Linked DNA regions of Homo sapiens: region 1 is linked to region 2. The links come from fine-mapping of genetic effects on gene expression. A gene starts in region 2. The other region holds a variant in brackets. All regions are shown on one strand. Distances are from middle to middle.

The links. PIP is the estimated chance that this variant, and not a neighbour inherited with it, causes the effect. A credible set is the group of variants that fine-mapping cannot tell apart.
Region 1: its variant is the best candidate, but not a certain one, in a credible set for the expression of FUT4 in tibial nerve (GTEx, PIP 0.56).

Annotation. Positions count from the first base shown.
Region 1 is chr11:94,519,443-94,524,818 of GRCh38, reverse strand. All of the region lies in intron 2 of C11orf97 (chromosome 11 open reading frame 97), which reads right to left. Among named protein-coding and RNA genes, the nearest start is that of C11orf97, 9.7 kb to the right of the region's middle. The variant A/G (reference allele first, on the strand shown) is at 3,168.
Region 2 is chr11:94,540,646-94,545,980 of GRCh38, reverse strand. FUT4 (fucosyltransferase 4) reads right to left here and starts at 2,060. Exons shown (of 1, transcript NM_002033.4): 1 at 1-2,060. The coding sequence starts at 1,847. The coding sequence ends at 255. It overlaps PIWIL4-AS1 (PIWIL4 antisense RNA 1), which reads left to right. Exons shown (of 5, transcript NR_135093.1): 5 at 135-649. RefSeq lists an enhancer at 1-483 and a silencer at 1,303-1,872.

The DNA.
Region 1 (5,376 bases), 21 kb after region 2:
CCAAAGTGTTGGGATTACAGGCATGAGCTACTGAGCTCAGCCAATTCTACATTTTTCTTTTTGAAAAGTTGTAAAGAAAGGAAAATCTTCAGGAAATCACTGAGAATACATGAATGATGGACATTAGCTAAATTCTTCCTTATCCAGAAAGTTCTATAAGTTGCCCAAATTCCATTCTATCTGATTAAAAGATCTGATGAGAAAACTACACTCCCTTTTTTTTTTTTTTTTTCAGGATGAGGTTAACCTTTTCAAGTAGACACAGGTTCTTTGCCCTTATCTGATAGGAATGCAGAAAGCCTCTGAAACCTGTTTTTACCTCAAATTTGAACCTGGAGGCTAAACTGAAACTGAACCTACAGAAAACTAGTAACATTTCTTTTTTTTAACTGAATAGAACACTACTTGCTACTAAATCAATTTCAAATCTCTGTTCCTCTCCGAAGGCATAATCTTATGTTTTAAAGAGAGATAGAAGAACCCAATGGCTAATAGCAACAACATCAGCTTCTGACAAACCTGCATCCAAGTATCAGTGTGACATTGGACAAGTCACTGCATCCCCCTGAGCCTCAGCTTCAAGTTCTTCAAAATGTGAATTAAAAGAGCATATATCTCACTGGGTTATTGCAAGAATTAAAAGAGATTATTTGCAAAAAATTTATCACGTGCAGAAGAAACTCTGCAAATGATAACCATTATTACTATTATTATCACCATAATTCCCAACATCAACATCATCATATAAAAAGACATCCCTACCTCTCAACCCAGCATCCAGTGCTTCTAACTCAGCCCATGTATCAACACATCAGGAGCCTACAAGGAATCAAAAGTCCACAGAAGGGAGGACAAGAGGCCTGTTAGCCCATTATTTCTATTGTCACTGATGGCATTCCCTAGACCCAAGTATAGAGTGCAAAGTAACAACCACGTGAGACACCTTGTCCATTTCAGTGTCTTCACAGCCCTTATTAACTATAGTCACAATATGACCACAAGAACAAGTAGCACAGTTCATTCAGATAAGAGCCCCAGTCTGAACAACTATTTCTCCTGTGTCCCGCTAGCTATGCAACCAACGGTATCCCAAAAGAAATATAATGTTCATTCTATTCAACATCCATAAAACTCAATTTCTGAATCTTTTGATTTTTTACCAATTTCATTCAGCCAAAGGAGAAGAGAAAAAGCACAGAAATGACCCCACAGCTTCAGGGTACTTCCATAATTGTCACTGTCAACTCATTCAAAAATAAAACGTGCTATAATTTAAGTTGTTTACTTCCAGGACAGATCGCCCTCTTAATAGACTCTTCAATAAGTTCAATAAATAGCCCAGTATTGCAGTATTTTATCTATGGTTAAGGAAAATCCAATCTGGACTCTTACTGAAATCTCACCTTCAACAATCAATTACTTTGTTGTCAGAGTATGTGGAGTTGATTGTCTTAAAATTCAAACAAACCCAGCTAATTCATACATAGCTACAAATATGCTTAGATCCATGCATATATGTTGGGGTCCCTAGAATTTAGACAGGCTTGGGAATATCTACAAAACAGTATGTAGCGTTTATCCAAAGTCACAAATTCAAATATACATAGGAAGAGGCCAGGCAGGTAATATGAGTAAAGCTGGCTAGGGGTAAGAAATAATTGGTTCTCCCAGTCTTTCTCTTTTTTACTACTTTTGATGGAGGCATCATACAAGAGAAACAATTTTTTGTATTTCACGATGAGAAGAAAAAACCTGCAGCGGGCACGTGAACATACATAGCTTGTGATGTTTCCCACTGGAGTGGGGAACTTGGTGTAGGATGCTGAACAGTGGAGTGGGCAGGTCAGCACGGGGCATTGTAACCCAACCCCAGCCACTGTTGTTAATACAAATGGTGCCTTGATGGTGTCAAATCAACCTTTATCCTCCGTGCTCCATCCCTGCTCAAGAAAACCTAGACATCTAGATTTGTATATAAAATTTCTAATTTTAAAATATTGACAACTGGTTCAGATATTTAAAAAATATACTGCGGGGCAAATAAATATGTCTGCAAGGTGAACCTGGCATATGGGTCAACATTTTGGGATCTTGAGCCAAACTAAGGTACCCCTCACAGTCTAATTCGATGTGGAACATGGTGGTCTGGTGTGGAGATAGAGGATGGCTCTCTGGATTTGCATTTGGACCATAGGCTATGCCATTCATTGAGATGGGTGGTATAGGGGAAGCAGCAAGTCGGGGAGAGGTGTCAATTGTTTTGTTTGTTTGTTTGTTTGTTTTGAGACGGAGTCTCACTCTGTTGCCCAGGCCGGAGTGCAATGGCGGATCTCGGCTCACTGCAAGCTCCACCTCCCGGGTTCACGCCATTCTCCTGCCTCAGTCTCCCGAGTAGCTGGCACTACAGGCACCCGCCACCACGCCCGGCTAATTTTTTTTGTATGTTTAGTAGAGACGAGGTTTCACCATGTTAGCCAGGATGGTCTCGATCTCCTGACCTCGTGATACGCCCGTCTCAGCCTCCTAAAGTGCTGGGATTACAGGCGTGAGCCACCATGCCCAGCCCAGAGGTGTGAGTTTTGTTTTGGACATGTTGGGCCTGAGTTATCTTATGACTTATGGGACATCCAGGAAAAGAAGTTTAGCCTGCAGAGACACATTTCAGAGGCATCCTAGAGAGGCCGTAGTGAAAAGTATGAGAAAATCCCAGGAAAGCTAATGGAACAAGATTACAAGACTGTGGGAAACACTCCGATAAACATCAAGATTCGGAGAATGTAGTGAATAAAAAGAGTGCTTAACAGAGGATGAGAAAGAAGTAGAGCGAGAACCAGGACAGTTAAGTATCATGGAATTTGAGAAAGGAACAAGGTTGAAGGAGAGAGCCATCGACTATGTGAAATGTTGCAGAAAGCTCAAGCCACCTAGAGGCAGAACAGTATCCACTGCATTTAGCCATAACGTGTCACCAGAGACACCATAGTGAGTAGAAAGCCAATGGGATTGGGGGTCAGATCTGAATTTGGATCTGGTTCTGCTACTTAATGCATAACCTTGGGCAAGTTAAACACCTCTCAGAATCTTAGTTTACTCATCCTAAGATGGGGATCAGAATATCAATATCATACAGCTTTGTGAGGATTTGGGGTAAGCAAAATTAAGCCCCT[A/G]TCCTCAGATAGCTTGTGTTCTAGTGGGAGAGATAGCCAATAAAGAAGTATGTAAAGAAATATGGATCCTCCTCGACTTACGACGGAGTTACATCCTGAAAAACCTATCATAAGTTGAAAAAAAATTGTAAGTAGTAAATGCATTTCATACACCTAACCTGCCAAACATCATAGCTTCGCCTAGCCTACCTTAAATGTGCTCAGAACACTTACATTAGAATGGCTAACTAGAAGCTGCGGCTCATGGCCACTGCCCAGCATTGCAAAGGAGAATCATAAGGCAGATCGCTAGCCCAGGAAAAGAGCAGCATTCAAAATTTGAAGTAGGGTTCCTACTGACATGTATCACTTTCACACCATCACATTGAAAAATCATAAGTTGAACCACAATAAGTTGGGGACTGTCTGCATAAAATTTCAGGTAGCAATAGAAAACAGGAGAAAGAAGAAAGCAGTATAGGGATTAGAAGGTGACCTGGAGGACAATTTCTGTTTTGACCTGGTGGAGTGGAAAGGCCTCTCTGAGAAGATGGCATATGCAGTTGAAGCCTGAATGAAGAGAGAGGAAGATATCTGAATGTCTGGGTGACCTTTAAATGTCCTGAGGGGTGAAAATGGATTTGGCACATTCCAGAATGTCAAGAAAGCCTGTGTGGTTAAAGTGGAGTGGAAAAGTATAGGAGATGAGATCAGAGAGGTGAGCTGGCCATAGGAGCATGAAATCTAGTCTCAGAATAATAAAAAGCCATCAGACAACTTTAAGCATGGAGGTGACATGTAACGATTTATGTTTGTAAAAGATCCCTCCGGTTTCAGTGCAGAGAATTAACAGTAGCAGGGGCAGTAGCAGAGGCTGTTATAGGATGCTATTGCCAGGCCTGCAAAAGGTGGCAGGGGCTTGGCAACGGTGCTGGTGGGGGATTTAGGATATACACTGAATTCAAAAGGATTGGCTGATAGACTGGATACGGAGTTTGAGGACTTGACTTCTAGGTGTTTGGTGGTACCATCTCATGATATGGGAAAGACCTATGGGTTTTTTAAAAGCCTGGGAATAGAGAATAAGATTTTGGTTCTGGACATCTTAAGGTTGAGAGGCCTATTGGACATCCAAGTGGAGAATCAAGTAGGTTTTGGGATTTAAGGGGAAAAGTATAGGGTAGAAATAAAAAATGCTGGAGTCATTAGCCCAATAGGGCTAGATATCCCACGGTGTGAGGGTAGGTAGAGAAAAGAGCCCATGACTGAGACCTCTAAATTATACAGGCTAGGTGGAGGGAGAGCCAGCAAAGAAGATGGAGAAAGAATAGCTAAAGAGGTAGGAGCAAAACCAGGAAATTGGAGCATTGTGACCTACAGGCCAAGCTAAGAAAGTGTTTTTAGAGAGAAGGAGGAAACAACTACATCAGATGTTACAGAGAGGTTGAGTATGTTGGAGGGATCATTGGATTTGACCTTCAAAAAGAAGGCTATTTGCAATCTTGGAAAGAACAGTTTCCCTGGACTCATGGGAACAAATGCCTAATTAGAATAGGTGAAGTAGCAAAGGAGAAGTAAAGGGGAGGAGAAAATGGTTAACATGTACTTATCTTTAAAAATAGCAGCTATAGGAACCACACAATTCTCTAAAAGTTTTATGCAGAATTCTGCACGTATGTGACAAACTGTGTCTTCCAGGAAAAGAAGCCATGGCTGTCATCAGATATATAAAGGAGGGGTCACTGCAAACCGAATTAGAAGCAAATGTCCAATGGCTGGCCTCTAGGCTCTGAGGCTGGGCTGGAAGAGTGTGGCACCCTCTCTAGATGCTAATTCTCTGTTCTGGCCAATGGTATGTGGCTTCTAGCCATGATATATATTTTAAAAACAGCGGGATTTCCCATAAGTAGATCATTTTAAAACCCAAATTTATAGAATCTATTCTCCGCATTGAAAGATTTTTCTAGGCTAAAATAGTACCTCTGTGCGACCTCTAGTGGATGTTATTTTAAAAAGCAGCCCAGACAGTCTTCATTTTATATAAAGGATATTTGAAAAGATTGCTTAGGAAAATGAATTTTTATAAACCAAAAGATACATCCTATTCACTCAGACTGTCTCACAATCTAGTGTATCCAATAAGAATAATACAACATACAGCTAGTGTATAAACTAGCTTTTATGTAGATTTTTAAAACAATGAAGATAAATCCAGAATATAACAGTATAG
Region 2 (5,335 bases):
CTCCTTCACCCCTAAACAATGATGCCCATCAGCAGCAAAGGGAGCCCAATTGCTAGCTGTGCAAAAAATATGGAAACCGGGCCCCCATCTCTGTGCTGAGTAATATTAATTGGTAAATCGTTTTTTTCCCATAGAGCAAAAATGGGTGTTTGAAGAACTTACTCCCATGATGCGGCAGTCAAGGAGATGCACAGTAGAGGATCAAAAAGCTGACAACTTGGCCTCCCCTGGGTCGCTTCCAGGGGAGCGCGGCTTCACCGCTCGAACCAGCTGGCCAAGTTCCGTATGCTCTTGGGCCGGTCCCCAGCCCTCTGTACAGCCTGGCACACCCGGCACCAAGGCTCGTCCCAGAAGGAGGTGATGTGGACAGCGTAGCTCCGGCGCCAGTGGAAGTAGCGGCGATAGACCGCGGGGTTGCGGTCGAGGAAAAGCAGGTACGAGGCCAGGGAGGAGGCACTTGGGAAGTCGTCCACGTGGATGAAGGCGCCGCGGGGCACAAAGCGCTCGTAGTTGGCACGGTCTGGGCCCAGCACCACCGGCACCGCCCCAGCGAGCAACGCGTTGCGCCAGAGCTTCTCGGTGATATAATCCAGGTGCTGCGAGTTCTCGAAAGCCAGGTAGAACTTGTAGCGGGCCACTGTGTGCAGGAGCCCAATTTCGGGCACCGGCTGCCCCGGCCCGCCCCGGCCGAACACGTCCACGGTCACATGTTGGCTCAGTTGGTGGTAGTAGCGGACCCGGGCCTGGCGCTCGTCCCAGTGGCTCACCACCCATGCCACCAGCCCCTGTTTCCTGGACAGTGGCGGGGCCAGGCCTGAGGGCGGGTCGCCGGGGTGGCTTCTGGGGTAGAGGTAGCCATAAGGCACAAAGACGTCCGAGTCCGCCCGGTAGGAGAGCGTCCAGTTGAAGAGGTTACTTGCCAGGCTTCGCAGCCCCGGGGAGTGCGAGGGCGACTCGAAGTTCATCCAAACCCAGCGCTGGCCCGGGGGCCTGGGGCTGGAGGTCGCCAGGGCTTCTGCCGCCGCCGCTGCCTCCTCGTAGTCCAACACGCGCAGATCCACCTCCTCGGCAGTGTGCGCCTGGATGCCCCAGGGCGGGGGCCAGTCGGGGGGCCCCTTCACGAGGTCGCGGTGGTGGAAAAGCACGGCCTGAGCCTCTCCGTAGGACGCGCGGTCGGTGAGCAGGCGGCAGCCGCTGATGTTGAAGCGCAGCCGGCAGTCAGGGGGCGGCCTCGGGGCGCTATCGCGCCCCCCGAAGGGCTCCCACCACAGCAGCACGCCCACCGGTCGCGACGGGGTTGGCGACGCCCAGGGCAGCGGCGGCAGCTGCCCCCAGCAAGCGTAGGTGATCAGCGCCGTACACGTCAAGCCGGCGGCCGCCAGCACACAGACGGTCCATGGCAGCCCCCGGCCTCGGCGCCACCCGCGCCGCCCGCCCGCCGCCGCCGTCGGCGAGCCCCACGGTGCCCCCATGGCGCGAACAGGCAGCGCTGCCTCCGCTCGCCACGCGTCCGCAGGCGTGGAGGAGCGGCACCGGCTCTCATGCTGTAGCTGCGGCTCCAGCCGTCGCTGCCGCTCGCCGCTGGCCCGGGAATGGAAGGGGGCGGTCCCAGAATGCAAAGGCCGCGGGCCCTGCCCTGCTCCTCCCAAGTGCCGGGCGGGGCGAGCCGCCAGGGCAAGGTGAGCTGGCCAGGACGCCCAACCGGGCACCGCCCGTCCCTTTCTTCCACTGCGCCCGGGGCCCAGCCGGCCCGACCAGGCCCCGGGAGCCTCCTGCGGCGCCTCCGCCCACTCCTTCTCCCAGCCCGCGCCCGAGGGCTTCCGGGCCGCGCCCCACAAGCGCCTCATCCGCTACTCTTGATTCTCTCTCAACTGATCCGGTTTCCCTCTGCGCGCGCCCACCGCCCTGGCCCTCGCTCACTGTGGCCCGAACCCTCGCCTTCCAGAGGGAAGGCCCGGTTCATCCCTGGGAAGGTACAGGAGGCTCGAGACCTTCTAAAGCAGCTGCCGCGCAGGAGCAGGCCCTAGAACAGACGGAAGGCGGACCCGGCGCCGCGGAACGGAGGATAGCGTCGGCTTCCTGCCGTTGGGCCTAGCCACCCGCCAGCGACGCCCGCCGGAGGGAGGGATTGAGGGAGGGAGGGAGTCCAGAGGCCGGGGGAACGTGCGAGCAGAGGCGCGGCCACCGCATCCGTGGCCAGGATCTCGTGGCCCGCCGAGACGGTCGAATTGTGGAGGCAGCCCGCAGCGGCGTGGCCTTCAGAGTCTCTGCATTTGGTGAAGAACTTAAGTTTTCAATGTGAGTGCTCATAAGAACATTTCCTTTGCCTGCCAGCCCAGTAAAGGATAGAGAACAAAATGTTTTCTTAGCAATCAAAACATGTTCTTTCCTTTGGTCCCCTACCAAATAAGTCTGACTTGCCGGCTCATAGTAGTATTGCTTGTACCAAGACGCACAGGACTCATAAACCAAAGATGAAGATGTGACCCCCCCAAGGCCCTTGTCGTCAAGGAATTTATTGCCTGTTCAGTGAGATGAATGAATGAATATCACTATTAATTTTACCAAGCACTTAAAAAACATTTTCTGCACCCATGAAAGTTATGCAAAATAGTTTGGATGATAAAATGATGACGAAGATAAATATTCTAGCACCCAAGTTAAGGGTGTAAAGACAGTATCGCACTGGCCTCTTCTACCTTATTAGGCGACACTGGAGACATCTACGTCTACAGTCACTTGAGAAATTTTTTACCTACGGGTTGAATTTGAATTTCTGGGTGTTCGCTTTGGTTTATGATATTCAACTTTTATTCAGGGGATTTCCAAATAGATCAGGGGCGGGGCTGCTGACCTAAGGAGAGGAGAAAGTTTTGAGAGAAGTTTTAGTAGATCACAGCTGTGCATCAGTGGAGTCCCACTGATACTAGGGGAGAAATAGACAGTGCTGGGAATGGGGCAATCCTGCCAGGTGTTTTTGATGTTATGCCTACAGAAAATAAATTTGCGTTAGCCATATGAATTTAAGAATGTTTTCATTAAAAATCAAGTATAGGCCAGGCGCGGTGGCTCACGCCTATACTCCCAGCACTTTGGGAGGCCGAGGCGGGCGGATCCCGAGGTCAGGAGATCGAGACCATCCTGGCTAACACGGTGAAACTCTGTCTCCACTAAAAATAAAAAAAAATTAGCCAGGCTTGGTGGCGGGCGCCTGTAGTCCCAGCTACTCGGGAAGCTGAGGCAGGAGAATGGCGTCAACCCAGGAGGCGGAGCTTGCAGTGAGCCCAGATCGCGCCACTGCACTCCAGCCTGGGCGACAAAGCGAGACTCCGTCTCGGAAAAAAAAAAAAAAAAATCAAGCATTGTGTGTAAAAGCTTCTATAAAAGTGGCTTCCGGGTGGCGCTCTCTGCAGGGCCACAGCCTCAGTTTGGAGACTAGATGGAGGATGTTAGGTGTTCTGGCTAGGCCCATCAACCTAGTAACATTTCCTCCTGCACAGTAAAACCTTTCATAATGCTTCTGGGGTTTTTTGTTTGTTTGAAAAACAGAAATTAGAAATCAAATATTTTATTTGAAATTAGACATTTCAGTGACTTTTTTCCACTCTTACTTTTAATTAAAAGAAAAAGCTATAAATGCACAAATTACTTGTTTAAACGAAATAAAGGAAAAAGTGTATTGGCTTCTCTTTTTATGCAATTCAAGAATCCAGCCATTTATTCACATTCTTCTCCCTCTTCAGTTAAATAAGACATCACAGATAGAGCCTAACATTGTGTCTGGCACGTGGCCGGTAGGCATTTGGGAAATATTACCCTGCTTGATTGCTTCCTTCCACCACTCCCGATTTTCTCTTAAGCCTCCGAATGTTCCAATTAAGCCATCTTTTTACCTGAAGAATGCCCGAGGTCTCATGCATATCAATTTTCTTTGTGCCCTCTTACCTCGGTAGGGTTGAGACCACAAACTGCCCCTACTATACCCTTATTTGATGTGGGAGGAGGGGATACTAGGTAGTAAGGTGTGTCTGGATGAATGGAAACCAGTCGTGACTTCGCAAATTGCTGGTTGAAGGTCATACGTGATCATTGTGCATCTCATACATGCACAAACATTCACAGGGGACTGGATTGTTCTTATTTTAAAAGAGCCATTGGTAGGGTAGAGGAGAAGGAAAGGGAGGAAAGGAGTTATGGGAAATTAATAAATTTACTCACTTGTTCATTTAACAAATTGGGAAACAAATGCAAAACACGGTTTCTACCTTCAAAAATCTACGAGAGAAACAGATAGTGGGGAGGGAAGGGATCATGGAAGGCTTTGAGGAGGTGGCTCCTGGAATAATTAGGAATCATTACAATGCAGAGGAAGAGGGCTGAGGTGTTAGTTGCCACAGAGGGAGCAGCACTGCAGAGGCCAGGGAGGGAAGACTGGGGCAGTAGGCGAGGAATTACTAGGGTATAGTTTGGCGAAGGAGATGGTGTTTATCCTGCAGGCTGTCGAGAAAGTCCTTGGAAGGCTTTAACAAAGGAAGGAAGCGATATTCATTTTTAAAATGAATTCTTATTTTTATTACGTATAAGGAGGGTGAGTATATGGATGGGGACACGGGGGGGCTGCGGAATGCTGACTGTTAATGTAGGCTCTGGTTAATGGGTGTGTTTGGTTATGGAAGTTCATCAAACTGTATGCTTACATATGTACTTTTATGGGTGGACATTATACTTTAGAAAAAAGTTTCTAAGAAAAAATCATTCTGTCATTAGTAAAGAGTGAGTTGGGTAAAAATAGGGTAAGAGTAGGGGTGTGGTGGTGTGCAGTTGGAAAGTTATTGCTGTAATTCAGATGTGAAATAAAGAGGGCCTGAACTGAGACAGTAGCTGTGAGGATGAGGAAGAAAATTAAAGGAGGATAGATTCAGAGAGATTTAGGAGGCTGGTTTCTTTCTCTGGGAAGCCTTTCTGGATACCCACAAACATATATCCAGGGTAGTTTACATGGCCCTCCTGTGCACTCTCACACATGCTGCACCTTTCAGAACATCATGGGACATCCAGAGATCATGACTGTTTCATTCATAATTCCATCCTGAACACCCACCACGGAACCAGGTTTCTAGTAGTGAATATTTGTTGAATGAATGTATGCCCTTAATGTATCACCGAAATTATCTGTTGGTATCTCTTTCCCCACTACAAAATGAGAAGACATCCGGAGATCTTGGCTATGTGAATGACTTGCTATGACCTTGAAATGTCCCTTAAGCTTTCAGTGGAAAATATTGTACATGTATTAAGCATAGTCCTGGCAACAGGCATCAGAAATGATATCAAA